Linked DNA regions of Homo sapiens: regions 1, 2, 4 and 5 are each reported to be linked to region 3. The links are microRNA targets in miRTarBase. Many come from high-throughput screens and were not tested one by one. Region 3 holds a microRNA gene; each other region holds the end of a gene's coding sequence.

Region 1 (5,103 bases), not on the chromosome of region 3:
CATCTCAAAAAAAAATCACCCTAGTTGCCACTCTGGCCTGGTTGCCCATCATGGTAATTGTGTCCACTTTGCCTGTGATAGCTCAGTGCTGCCGCCTGGCCTCTGTTGACCAGTCATCCCATTAATAACAGGGAACTCTGTTCTGTGGCAGAATCTCCTACTATTAACCCTGCTGAGGCAGCTGTCACTGAACAATCCCGGTGCTCCCCTCACTTCATCCTTTATTGTCTGAGTGAACGGGAAGCTATTTGGGCCTTCCGAGATAACATAGGTGTTTGGTTCTCAGATCTCGTGTAAGAAATTCATTTTAACACACGCTGAGTCTGCTGACACCCTTTCTCTGCTCATCATTTTAGCAGCTCTACCTCATTTACTGTAGGCCATCATTCCTCGCCAAGTATTGGATTTTTTTCTTTTCAGAGAGACAGGGGTCTCATTATATTGCCTAGGCTAGTTTCCAACTCCTGGGCTCAAGCAGTCCTCCCATCTCAGCTTCCTGAGTAGCTGGGACTACAGATGTGTGCCACCACGCCCAGCTAATTTTTATTTTTGTAGAGACTGGGTCTCACTATGTTGCCCAGGCTGGGCTTGAACTCCTGAGTTCAAGCGATTCTCCTGCCTTACCCTCCCAGAGTGCTGAGATTACAGGCGTGAGCCACTGCACCCAGCTGATTAATACATGAAAACCACTCGGAAAAGAGCCAGGCAACGCTGACACAGAGTATATGCCATGTATCAGCTACTGCTACCATCACTTGCAAATCCCATCTCCTCTACAATCTCAACTCTGAAAACAGTATCATTCCACTCCATCTTTACTGAACCTGCCCAGGCTTGATGCTGGTTAGATGGAGGAGGATGAGGAGTATAATCAAAGAAAACTTACAAAATTTTGATCCTGACAGGTTTACAGAAATTTTAAGAGGGGGCAATAAATGGGAAAGTGGGATCTGGTTTGAAACATACTATGAAACTGTAGAAAGTCCAGGTGTAACTGCTCTGCAGTCCACTGGAGACCCACGACTGAGGCTTGGGAGAGCCATCAGGACATGGGCAGGTTTTTTTCTTCTTCTTCGAGACAGTCTCGCTCTGTCACCCAGGCTGGAGTGCAGCAGCATTATCTCAGCTCACTGCAACCTCTGCCTCCTGGGTTCAAGTGATTCTCCTGCCTCAGCCTCCCGAGTAGCTGGGATTACAGGCATGTGCCACCAAGCCTAATTTTTCTATTTTTAGTAGAGACAGAGTTTTACCGTGTTGGCCAGGCTAGTCTCAAACTCTCACCTCGTGATCCGCCCGCCTTGGCCTCCCAAAGTGCTGGGATTACAGCCATGAGAACACAGATTTAAAATTTATTTGCATAGGCTGGGCGTAGTGGCACATGCTTGTAATCCCAGCACTTTCGGAGGCCGAGGCAGGCAGATCATGAGGTCAGGAGTTCAAGACCAGCCTGGCCAACATGGTGAAATCCCGTTGTCTATTAAAAATACAAAAGTTAGCTGGGCGTGGTGGTGGGCGCCTGTAATCTCAGATACTAGTGAGGCTGAGGTTGCAGTGAGCCGAGATTGGTCCACTGCACTCCAGCCTGGGCAAGAGCAAGACTCCATCTCAAAAAAAAAAAATGGCAATCTATAAAGTAATTTCATTTCATTTTTGAGACTGTCTTGCTCTGTTATCGTGTGGTGGTGCAATCACAGGGGCTCACTGCAGGCTCAACTTCCTAGGCTCAAGCAGTCCTCTCACCTCAGCCTCCCGAGTAGCTGGGACCACAAGTGTGCACCACCACACCCAGCTAATTTTTTTTTTGAGATGGAGTCTCACTCTGTTGCCCAGGCTGGAGTACAATGGAGCAATCTTGGTTCACCGCAACCACTGCCACCTGCATTTAAGCGATTCTCCTCCCTCAGTCTCCTGAGTAGCTGGGATTACAGGCACGTGCCACCACACCTGGCTGATATATATATATAATTTTTTTTTTTTTAGGAGAGAGAGCATTTCACCATGTTGGTCAGGCTGGTCTCGAACTCCTGACCTTGTGATCCGCCCACCTCGGCCTCCCAAAGTGCTAGGATTACAACTGTGAGCCACTGCGCTCAGCCCTAATTTTTTTTTTTTAATTTTGTTGTAGAGATAGGGTCTTGCCACGTTGCCTAGGCTGGTCTGAAGAGATTCTACTGCCTTGGCCTCCCTAAGTGTTGGGATTATAAGCATGAGCCACTGTACCTAGCCTATAAAGAAATTTTAGGGCCAGGCATGGTGGCTCACGCCTATAATCCCAGCACTTTGAGGCTGAGGCCGGCAGATTGCTAGAGCTCAGTTTAAGACCAGCCTGGGCAACATGGTGAAACCCCATCTCTACTAAAAATACAAAAATTAGCTGGGGCGTGGTGGTGCACACCTGTAGTCCCAGCTACTCTAGAGACTGAGGCACGGGAAGTGCTTGAACCCGGGAGGCAGAGGCAGCAGTGAGCCAAGATGGTGCCACTGCATTCCTGCCTGAGCAACAGTGCTAGACTCTGTCTCAAAAAAAAAAAAAAAAAAAAAATTAAGTCAACTTTCAAATTCCATTTATAGTTACCAACATGTCTTGTCTTTTTTTTTTGAGATGGAGTTTCGCTTTTCTTGCCCAGGCTGGAGTTCAATGGCGCGATCTCAGCTCACCACAACCTGCGCCTCCCGGGTTCAAGTAGTTCTCCTGGCTCAGCCTCCTGAGTAGCTAGGATTATAGGCATGTGCCACCATGCCCGGCTAATTTTGTGTTTTTAGTAGAGACGGGGTTTCTCCATGTTGGTCAGGCTGGTCTAGAACTCCAGACCTCAGGTGATCTGCCTGCCTTGGCCTCCCAGAGTGCTGGGATTACAGGCATGAGCCACTGCACCCAGCCAACATGTCTTGTTTTAACTGAAATATATGGTCCAAACATTGCACAAAACCACACTCAATCTCTTCTGAAAAACTATTCTGTTTAATAGTGCACTTCATTTATGCTACAGGATGAGCAGGGTTGGGAAAACACAATGGAAGGTCATCCCGTCGGTTGGGAAAACTCGGGGAGTGCCATCCTCACCCAGCAACGAGCTCTGCTACCAGGCTCAGGCACAGCCTGCCTTCTCTGGGCTTCGTTTTTTTGTTTTTTTGTTTTTTTTTTCTCCCTTTTGGGCTTTGCTCTTTCTCTGCATTAATCTTCAGCTGCTGAAGAGTCAGAGGTGGAGGCAGGAGTGGTCTGGCTCCTGGGGCTGGGTGTCAGAGGTGAGAGGGCAGGGCAAGCAGGCCAAGTGAGCTCCTTGAAAGCATCCTTACCCAGGCATTTAGAGAAAATCATTTTCATCATTGGAGTGGGAAGAGGACAAGAGAGGACAGCAATCAGAGGCCAACGCTAAGTGCTTCTGACCCTCTCCCTCACAGCCGGTTACTAGCTGTTTGGACAGATTTGCCCATTCAGCCCCAGGACAACTGGGGGGGATGGCAGGGGGTCTGCTGGCAATATCACCAGGTTTCTCTTGGAAACATGGTCTGGCTGCTCCAAGAGCCCTAAAGGACACCATCATCACAGATGATGATTCTGGAATCTCTTCTACCCTCAATAAAATAATCCCTCAATGCCAAATTTCCATAATTAACGAAATCATGAAACAAAACAGCATGTTTCTTACCGAAACTTAAAGCTGGACTAGGAACAGTAGCTTTGAAATAGTCTCCCTTTACCCTCCCTAGCAAATAACAGGACCCAGAGCGTCCTTTCCACTGCTGTCTGTGCTGACTACGCGGACTCCAACTAAAGGAATCCATCGAATTCTGTCCCGACTGTGCTTCCATCCCCACCTTGGAAAGGTTCCTCTGCTGTGAGAAAAACAGTTTAGTGCAAACTCCTTTCCTAAATGGGGTAACTGGTCCCAGAGCTGCTTTCTATTCCCAGCACGCCATCCACTTGCCTTGACGCTTTCTAAGGCTGGTGTGATTTCTGGGAAAATTCAACGATTTGCCCCATCTGCCCCATTCTCTAAAATGAAAAGTCTGAGTTGAAAGGGACACATCCTAAGCTGTTGAGATTTATAGGGTAAGGCAAGAGCTCTTGAGACTCAGGGAAAGTGAGGAAAATGGGTGTGTGGCTCTTTCACGTGGACTCTCTGATATTTAACTCGGTCGTAACTCTGAGGGAGCTTTTGCTCATGCCGATCCCATTCAAAGGCTTCTCTCCAGTGTGAATTCTCTGATGGCGAACAAGAGCCGAGCTGTACCTGAAGGCTTTCCCACACTCACTACATTCATAGGGGTTCTCCCCGGTGTGGATTCTTTGATGCTGAATAAGGCCTGAACTGTAGGTAAACTTTCCTCCACATTCCATACATTCGTAGGGCTTCTCTCCAGTGTGGATTCTCTGGTGCTGATAGAGGTGTGAGCTCTGGCTGAAGGCTTTCCCACATTCATTACATTCATAGGGTTTTTCTCCAGTGTGGATTCTCTGATGGTGAATAAGGGTTGAGCTCCTGCTGAAGGCCTTCCCACATTCATTGCAGGCGTAGGGTTTCTCACCAGTGTGGATTCTCTGATGGTGGGTGAGGGTGGAGCTCCAGCTGAAGGTCTTCCCACACTCATTACATTCATAGGGTTTCTCCCCCGTGTGGATCCTCCGATGCAGAATGAGGGCAGAGCTACAGCTGAAGGTTTTCCCACAATCACTACATTCATAAGGTTTTTCCCCAGTGTGGATTCTCTGATGCTGAATAAGGTGTGAGCTCTGGCTGAAGGCCTTCCCACACTCATTACATTCATAGGGCTTTTCCCCAGTGTGGATTCTCTGATGTTGAATAAGGTCTGAAGTTCGATTAAAGCTCTTGCTACATTCATCACACTTATGGGGTCTGTCTCCCACGGGGAGTCTCTGATGTGAGATAAGGTTGGAATTCACAGTGAAGCTGTTCCCAAAATCATTATATTTCTCGCTTCTCTCTCCCCTGGGGGTTAGCTTCTCCTCAACTGTCACTTGACCAAAATCTGGCATTTTCCTGTTCAGTCTTTCTCCAGGGGAGTTCCCCAGCGGCCTTTTCAGACTGACTTCTCGTTCATAGGCTTCTTTAAACTTGAGACCCTGAGAAATATCCTTTT
Region 2 (5,103 bases), not on the chromosome of region 3:
AGGTAAGCCCCGGGTTCCTCCCACTTCCGTGTATTCCTGAGGACTCTGCTTTCCCACACTGAGTTTTGCATCTTCTCACAGGGAATTTCTATGGCTTCTCTGTACTTTGCTAATTATATGCACATTAATCATGGTGACCTGGTTACAGGCTATGGTTTCAAGAGAAGATAAAGTTCCCAATTGGTATCTGATGGGCAAAACAGGTACAGATGGACCCCCTGGGCTTTGCCCCTGTTGAGCTCATGATCACTACTAACCACCCCCCAGATGCTGGGCCACTGGCACTCTATCAGCTGCCCTATACATGGGTCTGGGCTGCTAGAGGTACCTGGTCTTCCAGTGGTCCCTTCAACAGTCCCTTTCCTGTGGCCAGTCTGCCCTAAGCAAGTTTTCTAACCTCTAGCCTTGTTGCATGGACTAGTAGTGGGCACTGACCGTCACTTTCAAGACCAAACAGTATCAGTGTTTGTTGCTAATACTAAGTGTGTCTGGAGGCTGGGTGTGGTGGCTCAGACTTATAATCCCAGCACTTTGGGAGGCCATGGTGGGAGAAGCTCAGGAGTCTGAGACCAGCATGGGCAAAATAGTGAGAGCCCGTCTTTAGGGGGGTGAAAAAAAAGTGGGCTTATTTGATGGAATTGCTGAAGTGCTATAATCATCGCTGAATCGTCTACGTAACTCTGCAAGCAGAATTACTTCTATCTGATCCAAACTCTGCTTTTGGCAGAGGAAGGGAAACCATCTCACAGGAGAAGAGTGACTTGGACAAGATCTCCACAGGCTTCAAAGCTGGCCTTCTCTTTCCTTTGTGCCACAGTATGATTTAGGACTGATAGGGACCCTCCCACCAATGGCCTCATCTTTTTTTATTTGTTTCTTCTTCTAGCTGAGGCAAGAGTTGGGGAGATAGAGAAAAGAGAAAAACGACTAAGGTTGGCTTAAAGCTGTGGTGTGACCAGGAGTACAATCTACTCCCAGCGTATGAAACAGTTATTTCTTCTTCTTTCTTTTGGGGAGGGGCCAGATCAGGTGACCAGAACTATCTAAAGCCTGCAGGTCTTAGAAAACATGTTTTGGCTGTGCTTCACATTTTACTTTTTGTTTTTTGAGATGAAGTCTTGCTCTGTCACCCAGGCTGGAGTGCAGTGGCGCTCCACCGTTCATAGCAACCTCCACCGTTCACAGCAACCTCTGTCTCCTGGGTTCAAGGGATCTTCCCCCACCTCAGCCCCCAAAATAGCTACAGGCATGTGCCACCATGGCAGGCTAATTGTTCTATTTTTTTCTTAGAGATGGGGTCTCACTATATTGCTCAGGCTGGTCTCAAACTCCTGACCTCAAGCAATCCTTCTGCCTCGGCCTCCCAAAGTGCTGGGATTACAGGAATGAGCTGCCACGCCCAGCCACATTTTACTTTTTAAATGAAAATGAAAAGCCTAACAGGAATATTGACTCAGCAAGTTTTTATTATGCACCTGTGGGTTTGTGACGATGCCAAGGGATCAGAGGAACAAAGAGAGAGGATGTTGCTCAGATGGGGGTCTCAACCTCCAGAGCAAGGTGGACACAAAGCTCCAGCCAGCTGCCCAGCCCCTGGGGTGGGAGGGAAGGATCGAGGGGTAGCTGTTGTCAGATAAGGCCAAAGGTATCAGTGGCCAAAAGGGAGACAAAGATCTCCTGGGTGCAGCCTCCTCCACCACTGTGGTGAAGGGTGTTGGGCTGGAGGGTTGGCCGACCTCTCCTGAGAGCACGTTCCCCCTGCTGCTCCTGCTGCATGGCATCAACCTGGGTTTCAGTTACATTACCCAGGAGGATTTCCAAATCCAGAGGCAATGTGGCCTTCCATTTCCTGAGGTGCCTTGGTTGGCTCTGGATCAGTGGTGGGGACTCAAGAGACAGCCTCCCTGTGGCTTCCAGCCCCTCACATTCCCTTTGTCGCTTTCTCCTTCATGATGTGGTTTTACACAGAAAAACACTCTGGTAAGTAGAACAGTGTTCTTCTCTTGAGTCAGACGTCTGAAGCAGGAAGGTGAATAACCTTCCCAAGACCTTAGAGCTACAGAGAGAATCCTCAGCACAGGTAGGAGCACACAGGTAGGTGGGGTAAACGTGTACAGAGAGCCTGGCTTCTACTTGGAATTTTCCCCTCCCTTGGCCTTAAAAATCGGATTTCTCCCTTTTCCAGCTATGTTGATACAAGAGACAAACTATTTAGAAAGTAAAAGCCTCAACCGTTTATTTTGTGTTCAAAGTATAACCAAATGATTTTATTGCATTTACTGCTCCTGGGCATGCAGATGCATCTACACAGAAACAGCAGTTGTGGTTATAAAATCTTTTAACGAGTTTGGGGCAGAGGCTTTTTAATTATTTTTGAGACAGAGTCTCATTCTGTCACCTAGCTTGTGCAGTGGCATGATCTCGGCTTACTGCAACTTCTGCCTCCCAGACTCAAGCAATCCTCCCACCTCAGCCTCCAGAGTAGCTGGGACCGCAAACGTCAACACCACACCCAGCTAATTTTTTGCATTTTTGGTACAGACGGGGTTTTGCCATGTGGCCCAGGCTGGTGTCACTGAGCTAGGCAATCCACCCACCTTGGTTTCCCAAAGTGCTAGGATTACAGGTGTGAGCCACTGCACCCAGCCCAGAGTTTTCCTGATGTGAAAATTACGTGAGTGACAAGGAGCACCAGGAGCCTTGCCTGACTTACTGTCTGTTGGTAGGATGTGACATATGAATAATACAAAATACCCGTCTGGTTTGACTTGCAGATTAAATCACTGCTAGACTACAGCCTTGATGCCCTCTCTTGCTGACCCTAGCCAACATAACCAGTCTTCCAGGAACAATACCATGTTTTAAATTGCTTGAGGTTTCACTACCTGCTGTCACTCTCAGTCCGGAATCCCAGCAGGAGACACAGCTCCAGCTGGCCTGCCCAGCCCCCATCAGAAGGCAGGGAGGAAGGGGAATTTGTCAGCGTTTACGGCTATTGAGTATGATTCTTCCATGCAGAGGACACCTGCCCTAAATGCTGAAACTTGGGTCTGAACCCTGCCTTTGATGGAATTGTGAGCAAGCTCACTCAAGTTTGTATTGACTCATCTGTAAATTAGGAATGATATAGCATACCTCACGTTTATCTGGAGTCATGGGCTGAATGCTGTCCCTTTCAAATTCCGATGTTGAAGTCCCAACCTCTAGTACCTCAGAATGTGACCTTATTGGTAAACGGTTGCTGCGGATACAGATGAGGTTATACTGGAGTCGGTGGGATGGGCTCTAATCCGATATGACTGGTGTCCTTAAACAAAGGGAGGTTTGGAGACAGACACGCACACAGCAAGAGTGCCATGTGGAGATGAAGGCAGAGACTGGGTGACGCTTCCACACACCAAGGAATGGCAACTGCCAGCAAAGGCATGAAGCCGCTTCTCCCTCACAGCTCTCGGAAGGCACCAACTCTGAGGACACCCTGATCTTGGACGTGCACCTCCCAGAACTGTCAGGGAATACACTCCTGTTGTTCTAAGCCAGCCAGTGTTTGGACACACCAGCACTCCAAGCTAATGTATCTATCAAGTGTGTTGTCAGGCAAGGTTCTGTTCTGGAGCTTGGCTCACCCAGACAGGAGAACCCCTCACTGGGGGCAGAGCTCCACATTCCTAGACAGGACAGATTGGAAGAAGGGACTTAAGTGCCTTTTAAACGATGACAACTCCGCTTCCAACCCACAAGCATTTACCAAGGATCTTTGGGGTATAAAGACATTATGGGGTAGGTGTGCAACACAAATTAAAATGTAAGCTTTGTTTTTGGTGAGCTCCAGATCCCTAGTGATTGGCCCCCAGGAAAATCAACAGGTATGACGACTGTTTCCAAACCTCAAGAAGGAGCTCTGCAGACCCCTGCCACAGAGGCCAGCCCAAAAGGGCTGCCTGATCATCTTGGATCTGCGGGGTGCTCCTGCCTACCTGATGGCCACGAATCTGGGGCTCAGACATGACATGTCTGGCTCAGTGTGCCTGGCCCTGCTCCCCACTGAGCCCATCAGTCCCACCCTGCCTTCTTCTTTCCTCTAGTCCAACATCCGCCAGCAGCTTCTCAGTGGAAGTGCAGGCATCCTGGAGCTTCAGGAGCAGATCCTAGCGTTCAGACAGGGAAGGAGGGGAGGGAGTATACTGAGGTTTGGCTGGTGACCAGGGTGCCGCCCTGACGGGGGATAGCCCAGTTTTACTCCCCGAGCTTGGGGAGCATGGGCCAAGGGTCTCTAAGACGCAGAACACCTGGCATGTCCAACCTGGTGATGGCACATCCCCCCCGTTTTTTGGCACAGCAGAAACAGAACACTCACTTGGCCACTCTTTCATTACCTGGGGGAGGGAGAGTGCTCCCATGGCACCACCCGAACGCTCACTACCTGAGAGCAAGGACAGGAGGGAGGTGTGCTCTCTATCCTGGGGAAGGTATGTCCTGGGTGGGGGCGCTGATCAGTACCAAGGTGAGGGGGCAGCACCAGCCAGGGTGAGGCCGCCCCAGGCGGAGAGGCTCAGTAGGAGTTCAGAGCCTGCTTGGAACGGCGCTTCATGTGCAGGCGCTCGTGGCGGAGGAGGTCATAGTTCTGCGTGAAGCTCTTGACGCAGTACCGGCACTGGAAGGGCCGGGCTTTGTCCTTCAGGTGAAAGTGGCTGCGGTGCCGAGCCAGGTGGTCGTGCCGCTGGAAGGCCTTCCCACACTCACAGCACTGGAAGCTCAGTTTGGCCTTGCCGTTTTCCAGCGGCTCTTTGGGACCCTTGTCCGCGTCCTCGGATGCCGCCTGCTCTCTCTTCTCCACCGGCTGGAGTCTGTCCGGCTGCAGGTGTATCCGCCGGTGGGAGAGCAGGTGGGAGTTCAGGCGGAAGCTCTTCCCGCAGGCACCACACCGGTAAGGCTTCTGGGCCTCGTGGCTCTCTAGGTGCCCATCCAGGTCCTCGCTGTCGCTGAACAGCTCCCCGCACACCGAGCACTCGTGCGGCTTCTCCTGCTCCCTGCGGCTCCGCAGATGCCGGATGAAGTTGACCCTCCAGCGGAAGATTTTCCCACAGTTCGGACACACGTAGG
Region 3 (5,103 bases):
TCCGCATCTTTGAGACCGTTTCCAGAAACCTAAGCTTCCCACATCCAAGAGCCCAGCTCCTCTGTCCACACGCTGCTGTCCGCTCGGGGACGGCAAAGGAGCAACCTGAGCTGCGCTGGCCAAGGCGGCTCTGCTTACCCAGTCCACGATGAGGATCTTGCTCACGCTCAACCTCTGCTGCAGAAGCTTGGCTGCCACGGCCACGGAGTTGAAGTAGCAAAAGCCCCTGCGGGAGAGAACTGACGCTGGAGACGAAGCGCAGGTGGGCGGTGGCCAGTTTCTCCACGGCCCGCCAGAGAGCCACTCGGGGTCCACGCAGACCTAAGAGGTCTCTGTGAGTGCAGAGCTCCTGAATACGTCGCAGGGAACCCTCAGTGATGCCGGAGAATCGGTTAACAGACAGACACGTACACACCCCACATGCAGACACACTCACACGCGTGCGCGCGCACACACACACACACACACACACAGCTCCCAAACAAGCCACTGGGGAATCTTAGCCAATGCCATAGGGTCGGCTAACCGACACGGACATGCACACACCCCACACAGACACACACACCACAGACAGAGACACACACACACCCCCCACAGACACACACACCACAGACAGAGACACACGTACACCCCACACAGACACACACACCACAGAGACACACCCTCCCACACAGACACACACACCATGCAACACGCCCTACACACATACATGCCCCACAGATACGCCCATACACCACAGACACACACCCCACACACACTCCACACAGACACACACCCCACACACACCCCACACCCCACAGATAGAGACACACACACCATGCAAACGCCCTACACACATATATGCCCCACAGATACGCCCATACCCACCCCCCCCACGTAGACACACATGCACAGATACACATGAACACCCCATACAGAAACACTCACACACACACAAACCACAGACACATACAAGCACACACACACATATACACATAAGCATATACCTATCACACACATCCACAGTTCCATACTGAGACAGACAGACACACACACACACACACACACACACACACACTCTCCTGCTTGGAGGTCCCCCACGCTCCTCTGGTAGGGAACCCTATTTCACATGTTACCAACATTTCCCTCATCTTCACCTGGAACCCTTCCTCTCAGGAGCTGCCGCCACGCCCCAGGAGACATGGCAGCCGTTCATCTCAGTTGCTTCCTGCTGACCTTCCTATATTCCAATACATAAATTACCTTTAATTTTAGAGAGTCTTACTCAAGAGACCAAGAAAACAAGCTATGAAAGTGATTCAAATAACAACGAAAACCTTCTTGATCTCAAATTCCCTTTGTCCGAATGACCACAGAAACGGAGAAACACTAGTTGTTTTGTTTTCAGAATCCGGGCTGGCATGGGGAAGCCCACACGCCCCAGGACATCCTAGACGCTGAGCTCCTGCAGCGGCTCACGGGGAGCACAGCGAAGAGCTGCAACAAAACACAATTCGTTTGTCTCCTCTGAGGTTTATTATTTGGAATATCCAACAACTCAGGTTCAAATTAGAAAAGAAACTTCAGAGAAATGAAACAAACAGGAAGCCTGGTGCCCAAGTGACTGTTCTGGGATGTGGAGCAAACACGTGGTTTTCAGGTAAAGCTACAAAGATTCCAACAAGCATCCCTCCCTGGCGGTTACAATCTCCTCCCTGTACACGAAGGACACTCTGCTCTAACACGCGGATCTGACTATCTCTCACGTACAATCTCCTCCCTGTACATGAAGGAGACTCTGCTCTAACACGCGGATCTGACTATCTCTCACGTACAATCTCCTCCCTGTACACGAAGGAGACTCTGCTCTAACATGCGGATCTGACTATCTCTCACGTACAGTCTCCTCCCTGTACACGAAGGAGACTCTGCTCTAACACGCGGATCTGACTATCTCGCACGTACAGTCTCTTCCCTGTACACGAAGGAGACTCTGCTCTAACACGCGGATCTGACTATCTCTCACGTACAGTCTCCTCCCTGCACATGAAGGAGACTCTGCTCTAACACGCGGATCTGACTATCTCGCACGTAGTCTCTTCCCTGTACACGAAGGAGACTCTGCTCTAACACGCGGATCTGACTATCTCGCACGTACAGTCTCTTCCCTGTACACGAAGGAGACTCTGCTCTAACACGCGGATCTGACTATCTCTCACGTACAGTCTCCTCCCTGCACATGAAGGAGACTCTGCTCTAACACGCGGATCTGACTATCTCGCACGTAGTCTCTTCCCTGTACACGAAGGAGACTCTGCTCTAACACGCGGATCTGACTATCTCGCACGTACAGTCTCCTCCCTGTACATGAAGGAGAATCTGCTCTAACACGCGGATCTGACTATCTCTCACGTACAGTCTCCTCCCCGTACATGAAGGAGAATCTGCTCTAACACGCGGATCTGACTGTCTCTCACGTACAATCTCTTCCCTGCACACGAAGGAGACTCTGCTCTAACATGTGGATCTGACTATCTCTCACGTACAGTCTCCTCCCTGTACGTGAAGGAGATTCTGCTCTAACACGCGGATCTGACTATCTCTCACGTCCTGCCGGCCCCTCCGTGGACGCCTGACTTCCCAGGGGTGACAGGGAGGCCCTTTCCCGGGCCCCTGCGGTTCTGTCTTGTTCTGACTGCTTCCTGGCCACAGCCTGATAGTGAACTTGTATCTGCACTTGTTCTTGCGTTGCCATCTGACAAACTGCTGCTCCAACTCTCCAAGGCAGAGCCCTATGCCACCTCCTCCTCACCGAAGCTGGCAAGATCAGGCACGCCTTCTCCATCTCCAGAGCATGGGGAGACGCTCTTTCTAGCACCACCCCTCCTCACTAGAGCGGCTACCGTCCCAGGAGACAGCATGCTCTTTGACGGGATAGATCATTCATTCACCACCCAGGCTGCAAGGCACTCCACAGACAGCTGCGGGTCTGTCCTGCCACTGGCTCTGGACACACAGGGATGGATCCGGGAGGACCCACACCCCACACTCGCCACCCTGCCCAGATCCTCAGCTGTATGGACCGTCGGCAGTCTCTGAAAGACCCGAAACAGCATCAGGATAGCTGCCTGCATGGACGTGGCTCTGTGGCTTGCTGCGTCAGTACCAGGCATTCGGCAGGCAGCTAAAAGGCCATGCGCAAAATGACCTGAGTCCTCTAGACAAGCAAGTGCTGCAGTGACTCACTTGAGGGTGAGTGGTGTTTCCTCTCCCAAGTGTTGACAACTACTCAACAACCAGAGGCTTCTCTGGACTAACCTCCACAGACCCTTTCCCATCCTTTCCTCTGATCTGTCTCCGTCATAACCGAGCAGTGATGCTCGCAGACTTTGGCATCTGCACTCCACACCCAGGAGCTGGAGCCAAGCCGGCATGCGGCACATCCTGGGTGGCCAGCAAACAGCAGCCCAGCTCCCCGCAGTCACTCACACACCCACCCAGCCCTAAGGGAGGGAAGGAAGACCTGGGTTCCCCTGCTGTGCGGGGCTGCGGCGTGTACTCACATGGGCGTGCTCTCCTCCGCATGGTGTCCAGGGGGGCGGACCACAGCAAAGCCATTCTGCAGGTGACACCAGACAGCCAGGAGAGAGCAACAAAAGACACACTTTGTAGCCACGGGAAAATGGTTGCACACTCAACTTTTAGCAGAGTTGGGCTACACAGGAGGACAGTTTCTTGCTGCACCCTGGCCACAGTGATGGGGACAGGATGCAGGGCCAGCTGGGAGCCTTTCCGGGAAGCCTGGGCCCTTCTCCTAAAGAGGTCTGGGGGCTACTAATGGTTCCCCCGAAACGCAGTCACTAGGATAACAGGTGGGTGCCTGCCCACTCTCAGAACTGTCGGTGAGGCGTGGTGCCCTTGGCTCAGGGGTCGGGGTGATGTGGAAAGGATGTGCTCACTCCCCGTCGGCTCGGGACCAGGACCCGCTAGGTGGCCACTGGAGGAAGATGAAGCAGAAGGGGCCCCACTCAAGGACTTGGCCGCGGGGCAGAGACGTTGTGTCCCAGCTTGGCCTTCACGTGACTGCCTCTGTCCTTACTGCAGTTCAGCTCTCAGGATGGCGGGCAAGTGGGCAGCCCACGAAACAGCTCCTCTCACACTGGGCAGAAACGCTGTCCTCTGCCCCATCACTTCTGCGTCAAAAATCCATCTGCAAACCACTCTGTAGTTGCTGCCATAAAAATGGATTCCAGTCCTCTCCTGGTCTCACCAGCAACAGGACACTGTGTGGTCAAGGTCTGTAATGAAGCCTCAAAAAAAGTGCCGGCCAACCATGAGTGACAATGCCATGGACGGGGTGAGCCGGACGCCGCAGGGACCAGGCTCAGGAAGGGGCGAGGGCAGCCCATGAGGTGGCGGCAAACGCTCTCAAGAGGCCCTGGCCTCCCTGCGTTTCTGCACTCAGTGCTTCCGAGTGTAGGCTGCAGACCCCTCGGTCCCGACCCCTGCTGAGGGTCTGTAGTCCACGTAGTCCTGAGGCTCTATGTACTCTTTTCACTGCCCTGACACCTGCGCCGATGGTGCTGAAGCACCGGAGGGTAGACGGCGGGCAGGGAACAGCACCAGGGCGTGTGTGTGTGTGTGAGCAGCTTCTCTTAACAATGTGCTCGATGAAGCAGTATTCAGACATTTTAGTAGATCTCCGCCCTCAAACACGTCCTTTTAACATCCCGAGTAAAGAGACGGGAAGGAAGCGTGAGAAACTGTGAGCTTTCCAGTGAAAATTACAAGTTTGGAACACACGGCTCTGCCCCTGTGAGCCTGCTGGCTCTCTCACTACTTATAAGACTTCTGGTGAGATGGGGGTGATATTAATGGTTTCAAAAATTAATGACTTTTTTGATACTGTATGGGTCAGAATATGGAAGATCCATGTAACTCCGTGAAGCTAAGTTTCCAAATGACCAACGCACGGTGCTACCAATCACCCATGAACGAAGGATCGATTTGATCTCCAAGAAGGGCTAATGGTTCAGTTAAACAAAACGGAGGGGGAGGAGGCCACGATTTGATTTCAGATCCACACTGCAGCTAATTTTCAAGACACTACCACTTGCTGAATTT
Region 4 (5,102 bases), not on the chromosome of region 3:
GCTGCCCCACCCTCCCATGCCCCCTTCTCAGAGCACCTGGGACCACTCAATTTGGGTTTCCTGTAGGCGGGGACACATTCTGTTTTCTCAAAATTTTGTTTTTCTTCTAGACTACTCGAGGGCAGATTTTGCAGGAATATCGAAAAATCAAAAAGGTGAGTGTCTCTTGTGTTGGGGTGGGCTCCAAGTGAGCCATGGGAGCTGGAGGGAGGAGGGTGGGCCCGGGGCAGCCTCCCTGCCCGCTACTTCCAAGGTGTGGGGGAAGAGCCTTTGAGTCTGAGGCCAAAGTTGCCCCACCACCCCCAGCTAAGTCTTCAGCTGTGGCATCCTGGCCCAGCCACACAAGCTGTGGAGGTGCGGGGGACCAACTCCCACTCTGCCCTTGGACCACAACCCTCCTTGCTGGGCACCAAGCCCAGGTTTTTGGTTTGGGGGGGACACTGGCCTGCTTACAGCGGGGAGCAGCACCCAGGGCGGCTCTGTCCTGAGCATGACTGTGCTGTCCCACAGACCAACACCAACTACAGCCAGGAGAAGCACCGCTGCGAGTACCTGCACAGCAAGCTGGCCCACATCAAGAGGCTCATCGCCGAGTACGACCAGCGGCAGCTGCAGGCTTGGCCCTAGCCGCCCTCCCCGATGGCGGGGATCTGGGAGGGTCGGGGGAGCAAAAGGCGGTGAGAGAGGATTTATTTAAAAAAATAAACCCGAGGAAGATGCTCATCTGAGCCAGCACCGCCGGCTTTCAGGGCAGCCCCTGCAGACGTCTGGCCCTGGCGGGTGGCTGCAAGCCCACCTCGGCCCTCCCTGCGCTTCCTGAGCAGTCCCTGCTTATGATGGGCTCCCCAGGAAGCCCACTGCCTCCTCCCTGGCTGCAGCCTCCGGGGTTCAGCCTCCTGTCTCGCCAGAAGACTCCTAGGCCCTTGGGGTGGCGCGCCTGCCTTTTCTAGTTTTATACAAAGACAGCCACTTTTAGCTACTGCTAATGAGACTTGAGTCTATTTTTGTACAAAAGAGAAGCAAAATCTTTTTTCTAAACCTGTGCCTCCCTCTCCTCGGACACCCAGGGTCTAGCCGCTGCCCTGGGTCCTGCCTGCAGTATTACAGAGGTCGTCGAAAGGTGCAGCTGCGTTCTGAGGGCGTGGGGAATGGGCAGGTGGCCTCTGCTGGTCTCTGGCTCTACGTTTAGGCACCCCTTTCCCCAGCCTCTCCTCCTTGGGCAGGGTCTCTGCTCCAGCAAGCAAACAGGGTGGCCCAGGTGGCTATTTTGAGAACTCCAGCTGGTGCCCCCAGACAGCTGCTCAGAGCCAAGGGGGCAGAGGGCTTTCAGCGCCCCCAGGCCTGCCCTGCTATTTCAGGCCCTCAGCTGTCGGGGGCCACTGTGTTTCTGTGCTCCAAGTTGAGACTCGGCCGCAGCGGCGTCAGACTTTTCTTTGCGATGTCCTCGGTTTCCCATTTGTTGCTGCTGCTGCTCATTCCACACTGTTGAGACCTTGTGGTCTCGATGCTGCTGGCCTCCCTCCGTCCCTCTGTCCACTTGTGGGTCCTGGGGTCGTCTTAGCAGAGCCACCGCCAAGGTTTGCACTCAGGGAGGGGCTGATGGAGGGCTGGGCGCCATGGGGTCAGGGAGGCCCCAGGGACCCATGGGCAGAGCTGGGGAGCCAGGAGGATGGGTCTGCCTGCTCTGGGGGTGCAGGCTCTGCAGACACCCCAATTGCTGCTCTGTTGCTGTGCCTAGTCTAGTGTCCCCCAAAGCATCGGGGGGCCACGCAAGTGTGGGTGTGTGAGTGTGCGTATGTGGGGACCCCCCAGGGCATGGTGGGGTCTGAGGCGTGTGTTCCCATTTAGGGCTGAATGAAGCCATGACTTGGAAAGGTGGTGGGGGGTGGATGGCGGCTGTGACTCAGGGCCCAGGGATCACATGGGGGTCACTGCTGCCATCAGCAGTCAGGCAGGGAGAACAGAAATGCAAAAATACAGATGTCTATTTTTCTAAACTGGGGGGTGGAGGGGTGCCTCCTGACAGCTTCCAAAGAGCTGACTGTGGAGGGCCCACAGTGTATCCCACCCCTGCCCGAGAGTCTCTCTCCTTTGGGACCCCCGGGTTCCCAGAGCTCCGAGGAAACTGATCCTTCATGTTTCAATAGCTGTTGTTGTTTTTCTCTTTGGGCCGGGCCGGGCCGGGGAAGGGCCGAGCAGGCTCCAGGAGGCCTCCAGAGTCAGCTGGACCTTGCTGTGTCGCCCGCAGGCAGCCCTGCAGACACCGGTGAGGTGGGATGATTTCAGGAGGTCCCAGCCCGGGACTGCCCGCCCCTCTGCCCTGGGAACCAGTCCAAGGGGCTGTCAGTTGAATTTGCCTTTTTGTTGTTGTTGTTGTTTTTGTTGTTTATTTGTTCTCCTTTTAAGGAATTATGAAGCTAAGAAAAGTTTTGTGTTTTGGGGGTTGGTGGACAAAGTTCTAGCTGATTAAATATGGTCTAACTTATTGATACTATTTTTTTTTCTTTTAATGTTGTACTGTGGAGAAAAACTATTTTGAGCCATGGGGTTGGTGTTTACAAGAACTTTCCACTTTTGCCAAAATGTTACAATTGAAAGGCATCTATCTGCGTCTTCAGTTTCCTGATATTTTCTTAAAAGATCTAGTGTCCTTTTTGTACACTAAACAGGTGAATGCTGACTTTTTTCATTCTCCAATAAATTTCACTGAACTGAACCTGGCAGCCCAGGCTGCCTGGCTGGTGTGTGTGGTGTGTGGGTGTTGGTGTATCTGTGTGTGTGGTGTATGGTGTGTATGTGTGTGTGGTGTGTGTTGGGGTGTGTGGGTGTGTAGTATATCTGTGTCGGTGTGTGTTGGATGTTGTGTGTGGGTGTGTAGTGTGTGTGATGTGTTAGGGTGTGTGTGTTGTATGTGTGGGTGTGTTGTGTGTGGTGTGTGTTGGGGTGTGGGGTGTGTGGTGTGTGTTGGGGATGTGTGTGGTGAGGATGTGGTGTTTGTTGGGATGTGGTATGTGTTGGGATGTGGGTGTGTGTTGGGGTGTGGTGTGTGGATGTGGTGTATCTGGGTGTGTGGTATGAGGGTGTGGTGTGTGTTGGGGTGTGTGGTGTGGGGTGTGTGTGGTGTGTTGGGGATGTGTTGAGGGTGGGTGTGTGTTGGGGTGTGTGGGTGTGGTGTGTGTTGGGGTGTGTTGGTGTGGGTGTGGTGTGTGTTGGTGTGTGTTGACCGGATGTGTGGTGTGTGTTGGGGTGTGAGGGTGTGGTGTGTGTTGGGTGGTGTGTGGTGTGTGTTGGGGTGTGTAGGTGTGTGTGTGGTGTGAGGGTGTGGTGTGTGTTGGGGGTGTGTGTGTTGGGTGTGTGGTGTGTGTTGGGGTGTGGGTGTGTGTGTAGTGTGTGGGTGTGTCACAGCCTGGTTTCTGTGGTGGCTGTCCCTGTCCTGTGGTTGGGGGTGGGCTGGCATCAGGAGGTGATGTGACCTGGGGCCGCCATAATGATGAGAAAGGGTTGTTCAGGGGCTCTGGCTGGGACCAGATAAGAAGGCAGAGTTTGCAGCCTACCTGAGCCGTTGCCTGAGAAAGGACCAAATCAGAGGGCCCTGTAGGTGACGGGGAGCGCGGGGGTGGGGGCAGGCTGGGTCAGGGCGGAGGGATAGGGAGCCATAGCAGGTGTGTGAGCACAGCAGTACCCTCTGGTGTGGATAGGGTGGGCTGAACCCAGCATTGGGATTCCTTGGCCCCCTGTGGCACCAAAGGCTACAGGAGTGGGGCTGGGGGTGGGGGAAACCAGCTGTGACTGTCTCCCTCTGATGAAAGCAGCAGCAGGTAACGGTAATATTACCTGTTCTTCCCACACTGGGGCAGGGGCATCCCCTGTGCCACTAGTGGGGATGGGGAAAAGGCCTGACGGGAGCGGCGGTGGTGCAGGTGGAACGAGCCAGGGGCCATGGAGAACATAACACTCAACCTGCCAGCCAAGGACAAGAAGGGGTGCATTTAGTAAGCGATAACACCGAAGAATAGGACCGTGGGCAAAGGTCCTGGGCCTGCAGCTGTGGGGGGGGCCTGGCCTCCCTGCCCGTCCGTGGCCTTGGCCCAAGTTCTAAGGCCACCCAGGAATCTGAGGGGCGCGGGAGGGGAAGTCATGCAGCCCAGTGGGGCAGCGTGTACCCTGCTCCCAGCATAGCCTGGCCACGCTGTTCTCCCAGGATAACATCTCTGTCCCAACATCCCAGGGCCAACACCAACCTCCTGCAGCTCACGGTCCTGCCTCCCCCGGCCCTCCAACGCCAGCCCTAAGCCAACTGCCCAGCAATACTCTGGCCATCACCCCCGCAGCCTGCAGAGGCCACAGTCAGTCCCCTGACCTTCCTGAGCCATGGATGCCATCAGTCTAGTGCCCCGGATATTCAGGAGAGCCTTCCCACCCTCATGACCTGGGCACCCTGGTAGAGAGGGGCTCAGAGCTGTTAAACCCTCTCCTGCCACCTGCCAGGGGCCCCAATTGTCCTCTTTCAACGGGCACCCCTGTTCCTGCAGCCCCCTCCTGTACCAAGCTCCACCTGGGCTCTGCAACACAGCAGTGACTCAGCCTCATCCCTGCCTTCAGGGAGCCCACACTTTGCTGGGGAATAACAGTGCATCTCACCACCGACTTCAGCACACCCAGGCCTGACTGTAGGGGCCAAACCCCCTCCTTCGGCCTTGTCAACTGCTGGGAGTGGAAGCAGCCCAGCCTCTATGCCGATTCCCTCCAGCTGCCCTGTGCCAGCTCCCATCCTCCGGCACCCTCTACAGGTGGCCCTGTGAACACAGGCTCCCCGGGGCTGGGTCTTGGGACCTTCCTCATGTCTCTCAACTACACAGGTTCCTGAATCACGTGTCGCCTCGAGGCACAAACTCCCCGATTCTCTGATCCTCCAGTACCTACAGGATGTCCAACAGTTCCATTCCCAGAGATGGTATCGGACTCCACAAGTTATGGGGGTCAGTCCCACAGGGCTGCACCTGTGTCAGATGCCACCTATACTTCTGGCAAGCAGGCTAATAAATTGCGAGTTCCCATGACCCCACTTCAGGTTTGATAATTGCTGGAACAGCTCACAGAAC
Region 5 (5,103 bases), not on the chromosome of region 3:
AGTAAATGAAGGTCAGAAGAAAAAAATACTGGAGGTAAGCATGTTTGCATGAAAATTAAATTTGGCAAACTGTAGAAGTCTTTTATCCATTCAAGAGAATGTACTCTCATGGGCCTAGACTTTCAACAGCATGTAAAAAGATCTGTAGCTAGATGTTTTAATTATCAGATTTAGTTTATTTTCACATTAGGTTCTGGAAGCCTGCAGATTTTATTAAAGACTAGCAATAGGCTTTAAGATTTGTCATTGAAATAATGTTATAAAATGTGACTAAGAAACGTAACATAATTATATAAACTTTATTCAGCAAAATAAAGGGTTTTTATTCGTGTTGTTATGTTGTTTTTGTTTTTTATTTTAAAGGAAATGGAGAAATCAGATGCCAACAACTTCTTAATCTTGTTCCGGGATTCAGGATGCCAGTTCAGATCTTTATACACTTATTGCCCAGAAACTGAAGAAATCAATAAACTGACTGGGATAGGCCCTAAATCTATCACTAAAAAAATGATTGAAGGACTTTACAAATATAATTCTGACAGGAAACAGTTTAGCCACATACCCGCTAAAACTTTATCTGCCAGTGTTGATGCAATTACCATTCATAGCCATTTATGGCAGACCAAAAGACCAGTAACACCCAAAAAACTTTTACCCACTAAGGCATAGAAGTTGGGAAATACTTGCTTCAGAACATTCATGGTAAATTTGCACTTCATCTTTCCTGCCTATAGAAAATCTTTCTAATTGCCAACAAGACTTTTATTAATTAAAACTGGACATTAAGCTCTGTTGTCATGAACAACTGGAATGTAAACCACAGTATTTTGGAGTGCAGAACATTCTCAATTAAGTGATAAGTCCAAATGATGAAGGAAATGTTTTAATTCACAAATGGAGATTTGTATGTGTTATCAGGTTCACCTGCTTGATATTAGATACATTAAAGCACTGAATTTTCATGGATATTAGTTGGATTTATCATTGAAATATGGTTAAGATTACAAATTATGTGTTTTATTTGTTGCTTTTTTTTAACCTTTTAATGTATATTCTTGTCTTCAGATGGTTTGCTATTTTTCTCTCCTGGGGGTTTATTCTAAGATACCTTTGTATTTTATTTCATGTGGAGATCATGAAAGTAGGAAATATACCTTTAGAAGTAACTCGCACCTTTCTTATGATGTTAAGAGAAACACTAGTGTTTAGTTTTACAGTAACCCTCATATTTTAATGGTGTTACAGCATTTGCAAAAATTATTCTGCTAAGTATTTACAACTCTATTTATTATTCACTCAAGTATTAACATTCTCTATTAAATAAGAGGAGGTGTTGTAAAGAGCTGCTAGTAGGTTCGCTTTAAACCACATGAGCTTAACCAAGAATATGTTATGAGAAGTTGCTGATTAAATCAGTGCTGTTTTTACACCACTTCTGGCCAACTCAGAATAATTTAGATTGTTCTTTTAACAAAAAAGGCTTTCTATCTCTTTTAAAGTAAGTCACTTTATAAGTTGGCAGAAGTGAATGACACTTTGAGAGTAGTCTTTCAATCTGAAGATGTAAGACTTCCTGAAACAAGTTCTCAAGAAGTCTTTACATTATATTTATAACTCATATAAAAATTATATTTAGAATTTTTAAACATGTACAAAGGGCTACATTTTAATTTTAAAATAGCTTCACATTATTTTACTTATATTGGGTTTTTCTTCATTTTAATCCTTTTCAAGTGGAATGGCTTAGAATAAGTATACACTTGAAATCTCCTCTACATGATCTTTGTTCTTTAACAGTGTATACCAGAGGGTTAGTTGGGGAAAAACTTCATTCTCAGGAAAAGACTTGAATGATTATGTGACCCTGTTATATTTCAGTGTTGTGACAAATGTGTAAACTAGCGGGGGAAGACAGTATTGTATCATAAATGAGATGCGTAGTTTGTTTTCTTTCATGGGAAGTAGAGATAAAAATATATACATTTCTCTAATTGAGTTGTTTAGAGAAAGAACTAATGTCTCATATGATGTATTTACTTATTTTAAAAAAAAGAATAGGAATGAGATGTCCCTGAGCTGTACTTTTCTATTATTATAAGGCCTTTAGGCATCAGTGCATCTGGGTTATCAACATTTTCTCAAATGCTGTCAATATTTTACTGTAATTTATGTTCTTATATTTATGTATATTTGTTAAAACTGTAAAAAAATTTCACAGATTTTTTTCCAATACCTGTGCAAGATACATGTGTAGCTCAAAACTATTTGTGATCTACTGTTTGCATGTAAGAGACCAGGATATGTAACTCTTATATTTTAAGTGTATACATATTGTGTATATAACATATGGATATTAAAAATGGGGAATTGCACATTTTACCTTTTGGACAGTAATTTCTATCACAGTTAGAAGGAAATGATAGTCAAATACACGTTTAGATTAAAACTAGTTTAAAAAATTATAAATGAATCTAATCAAAATGTGAATAGTAGTCAAAAGGATAATTTAATAAGCATTTTACGTTACTAAATTTGTTCATTTCAATATTAACTAAATTTCCCTCATCAAAGCAATCTTTGTGATATTACTTCGCTATTAAATAAAGAAAATTGGATGCAAGACAATGGAGAAACTTTAAAACTAAACAGGACCACCCTTTATTCTTAAATTTGTGTGTGTCCAACAGTTGAATTGAATGTCTATAAGGTCTAAAGGTAGAATGTGAATATTGCCACAGAGTTCATTGCTCTCAGTATAAGATTTTACTTTATTAATGCAGAAGGAATATGGATATATTTCTTTAAGTCTGCAGATTTTTTTATTATGGTGCAGCTTTTTTTTAATTATGTTTTTAAAATTATACAGTTGAAAAATATGCCATTTCATAAAGTCTGAGGATTTTCGTCAACCTTACTGAAACACACTGGTGCTTTCATCATCAGAGGTCAAATTATTATGATAACTATTCCATTAAGTTTGCCAAACATTTGTCGTGGTTACCAGTGCAGCCTGTCAAATTCTGCTATTTGACACAGCTTTGGAAAGATTTAGTTCTTGGTTTTTCCGTTTTGTATTAGAATGACTGTTACAGTTTTATTTGGCTGTTTAAAGCCAAATTCAGCTATTTAATTATGGTTTCATGGACACTGTTGAGCAATGTACAGTGTATGGTGTGCTTACCTGTCCACTCTAGAGCATTGCTTACAGGTTTTTTGTTTTTTAAGATGCTGTGCTGTAAAATACTGTCATACTTGCTATTTCCTGGTACAGTGTAGTTTTTCCCCTTTCATTTGAATAAAAGCATGGCACCAAATGACTCCTTTTCTGTTTCTTGAATAAAATGTAGTTTTTGGTAAAATTATTTGAACTTGAGATAACTCATACAGTTTTTCTATCCCCTAACCTATGTTTAAATTTAATAACTTGAATATTCATAACAGGCAACTTGAAATAATTAGCCTTTTAAAAATACTAACTTAGGGCAATGTTAAAAAGTCGGTAACTTTCTATGCTTAGCACAGACGGTCTACATAGTATGATTTATAAATGTGCTTATCTTATGTTAATCTTGCTCATACTAATTCACTATCTTTTGGTGAATTGATAGTTATATTGTACCAGAACTAGTGCTCTATGTCTTTGAAACTGAATGGCCAGTGAACTCACTGATCTGGAGTAGCCATGAGAAGCTAGTTCTTGACCATTATTTTGTAAGTTTCACTTTGATTTTGCTGATTCTACTTACTCAGAACAGAGTAAAGAAAAAGGTGTTTTTTAAGAAAAAAGAGATCTGATAACAAAACTATAAAATAATCGTCATGCCTAATTATATACCTGAAGAAATATCTGGTTAGTAGACATAAATGTGGTTTTCTAGCTTGGGACCTTTTTGATAGGTTCTGTAACTTCAGAGCACAGCTATATTTCCACAATATTTCCAGTACTTTAATTTTCAGAAATAAAAATATTTAACCCGGCCGGGCGCGGTGGCTCACGCCTGTAATCCCAGCACTTTGGGAGGCCGAAGTGGGCGGATCACGAGGTCAGGGGATCGAGACCATCCTGGCTAACATGGTGAAACCCCGTCTCTACTAAAAATACAAAAAAAATTAGCCAGGCCTGGTAGCGGGCACCTGTAGTCACAGCTACTTGGGAGGCTGAGACAGGAGAATGGCATGAACCCGGGAGGCAGAGCTTGCAGTGAGCCGAGATTGCACCACTGCACTCCAGCCTGGGCGACAGAGCGAGACTCCGTCTCAAAAAAAAAAAAAAAAAAAACCCTAAGACCCAGGCAACATTAGAAAAATGTACACAATGCCAGGTATGGTGGTGGCTCATGCCTATAATCCCAGCACTTCGGGAGGCCAAGGCAGGCAGATCACTTGAGGTCAGGAGTTTTGAGACCAGCCTGGCCAACACGGCGAAACCCTGTCTCTACTAAAAAATAAAAATTAGCCAGGCATGGTGGCATACGCCTGTAATCCCAGGTACTCAGGAACATGAGGCAGAAAAATTGCTTGAACCCAGGAGGCGGAGGTTGCTGTGAGCCAAGATCGCACCTCTGCAGTCCAGCCTGGGTGACAGAGTGAGGCTGTGTCTCAAAAAAAAAAAAAAAAAAAAAAAAAGTGTACACAAACCCTAGAGCCCCCACACAATAAGAATGTGTTGCCTTATGACTGAAATTGATACTTCTTAACTAGGGCAGAGGAAAATATTCTGTAGTGAATAGGAACAAACACCTTTATTTCATGATCTGTCTACACAGAAAGATGATAATAAAATTCAGCAAAGGAAATGTAGCTGTAATGTTATGACCTAGGAATTGGCTATTGGAGAAACACATCTATAAAATGAGTGTGAAATTCTGTCGTCCCTTAGAAGTATATAGATGCTTAAGAAATAGGTATCTTCTCAAAAGAAACAAATGAGATATTAATGATTTTGCCTAATTTGATGGGGGTGGGGGAAGTACACAGATTGGTATGTCAGAGTTGCTCTTCAAATAAGGAGATCTAGAATCTAGTTTCAGTCACTTCCTTTTTGCCCCTGTGGGCATGTAGGTCTTCTAGCAACTCAAGGCCACATGCTTAGACAACACAGAT

The links. The annotated mature microRNA hsa-miR-4441 reads ACAGGGAGGAGAUUGUA and lies in region 3 at 1,812-1,828, opposite strand. An mRNA with a match to its seed (bases 2 to 7 or 8) in the 3' UTR can be bound and repressed. Matches are read on the target gene's strand: a 7mer-m8 pairs with bases 2 to 8, a 7mer-A1 pairs with bases 2 to 7 and ends in A, and an 8mer does both.
Region 1: the mRNA of ZNF3 is a reported target of hsa-miR-4441. Seed matches in the 3' UTR shown: 7mer-A1 at 4,077-4,083.
Region 2: miRTarBase lists ZNF496 as a target of hsa-miR-4441. Seed matches in the 3' UTR shown: 7mer-A1 at 3,509-3,515 and 7mer-m8 at 2,960-2,966.
Region 4: miRTarBase lists ELL as a target of hsa-miR-4441. Seed matches in the 3' UTR shown: 7mer-m8 at 804-810 and 7mer-m8 at 865-871.
Region 5: the mRNA of CAMSAP2 is a reported target of hsa-miR-4441. Seed matches in the 3' UTR shown: 7mer-A1 at 2,069-2,075.

The regions. Positions count from the first base shown.
Region 1 is chr7:100,067,032-100,072,134 of GRCh38, forward strand. ZNF3 (zinc finger protein 3) reads right to left here. Exons shown (of 6, transcript NM_032924.5): 6 at 2,942-5,103. The coding sequence ends at 4,112. Among named protein-coding and RNA genes, the nearest start is that of ZNF3, 12 kb to the right of the region's middle.
Region 2 is chr1:247,295,967-247,301,069 of GRCh38, forward strand. ZNF496 (zinc finger protein 496) reads right to left here. Exons shown (of 10, transcript NM_032752.3): 10 at 1,449-5,103. The coding sequence ends at 4,553. Among named protein-coding and RNA genes, the nearest start is that of ZNF496, 33 kb to the right of the region's middle. RefSeq lists enhancers at 2,957-3,856, 3,857-4,755.
Region 3 is chr2:239,084,017-239,089,119 of GRCh38, forward strand. It overlaps MIR4441 (microRNA 4441), which reads right to left and starts at 1,910; the gene lies at 1,811-1,910. HDAC4 (histone deacetylase 4) reads right to left here. Exons shown (of 27, transcript NM_001378414.1): 19 at 3,543-3,598; 20 at 139-226.
Region 4 is chr19:18,440,277-18,445,378 of GRCh38, reverse strand. ELL (elongation factor for RNA polymerase II) reads left to right here. Exons shown (of 12, transcript NM_006532.4): 11 at 111-155; 12 at 511-2,716. The coding sequence ends at 627. Among named protein-coding and RNA genes, the nearest start is that of ISYNA1, 4.7 kb to the right of the region's middle. RefSeq lists a silencer at 3,519-3,568 and enhancers at 4,362-4,421, 4,582-4,701.
Region 5 is chr1:200,857,391-200,862,493 of GRCh38, forward strand. It overlaps CAMSAP2 (calmodulin regulated spectrin associated protein family member 2), which reads left to right. Exons shown (of 17, transcript NM_203459.4): 16 at 1-34; 17 at 364-3,314. The coding sequence ends at 669. Among named protein-coding and RNA genes, the nearest start is that of GPR25, 13 kb to the right of the region's middle.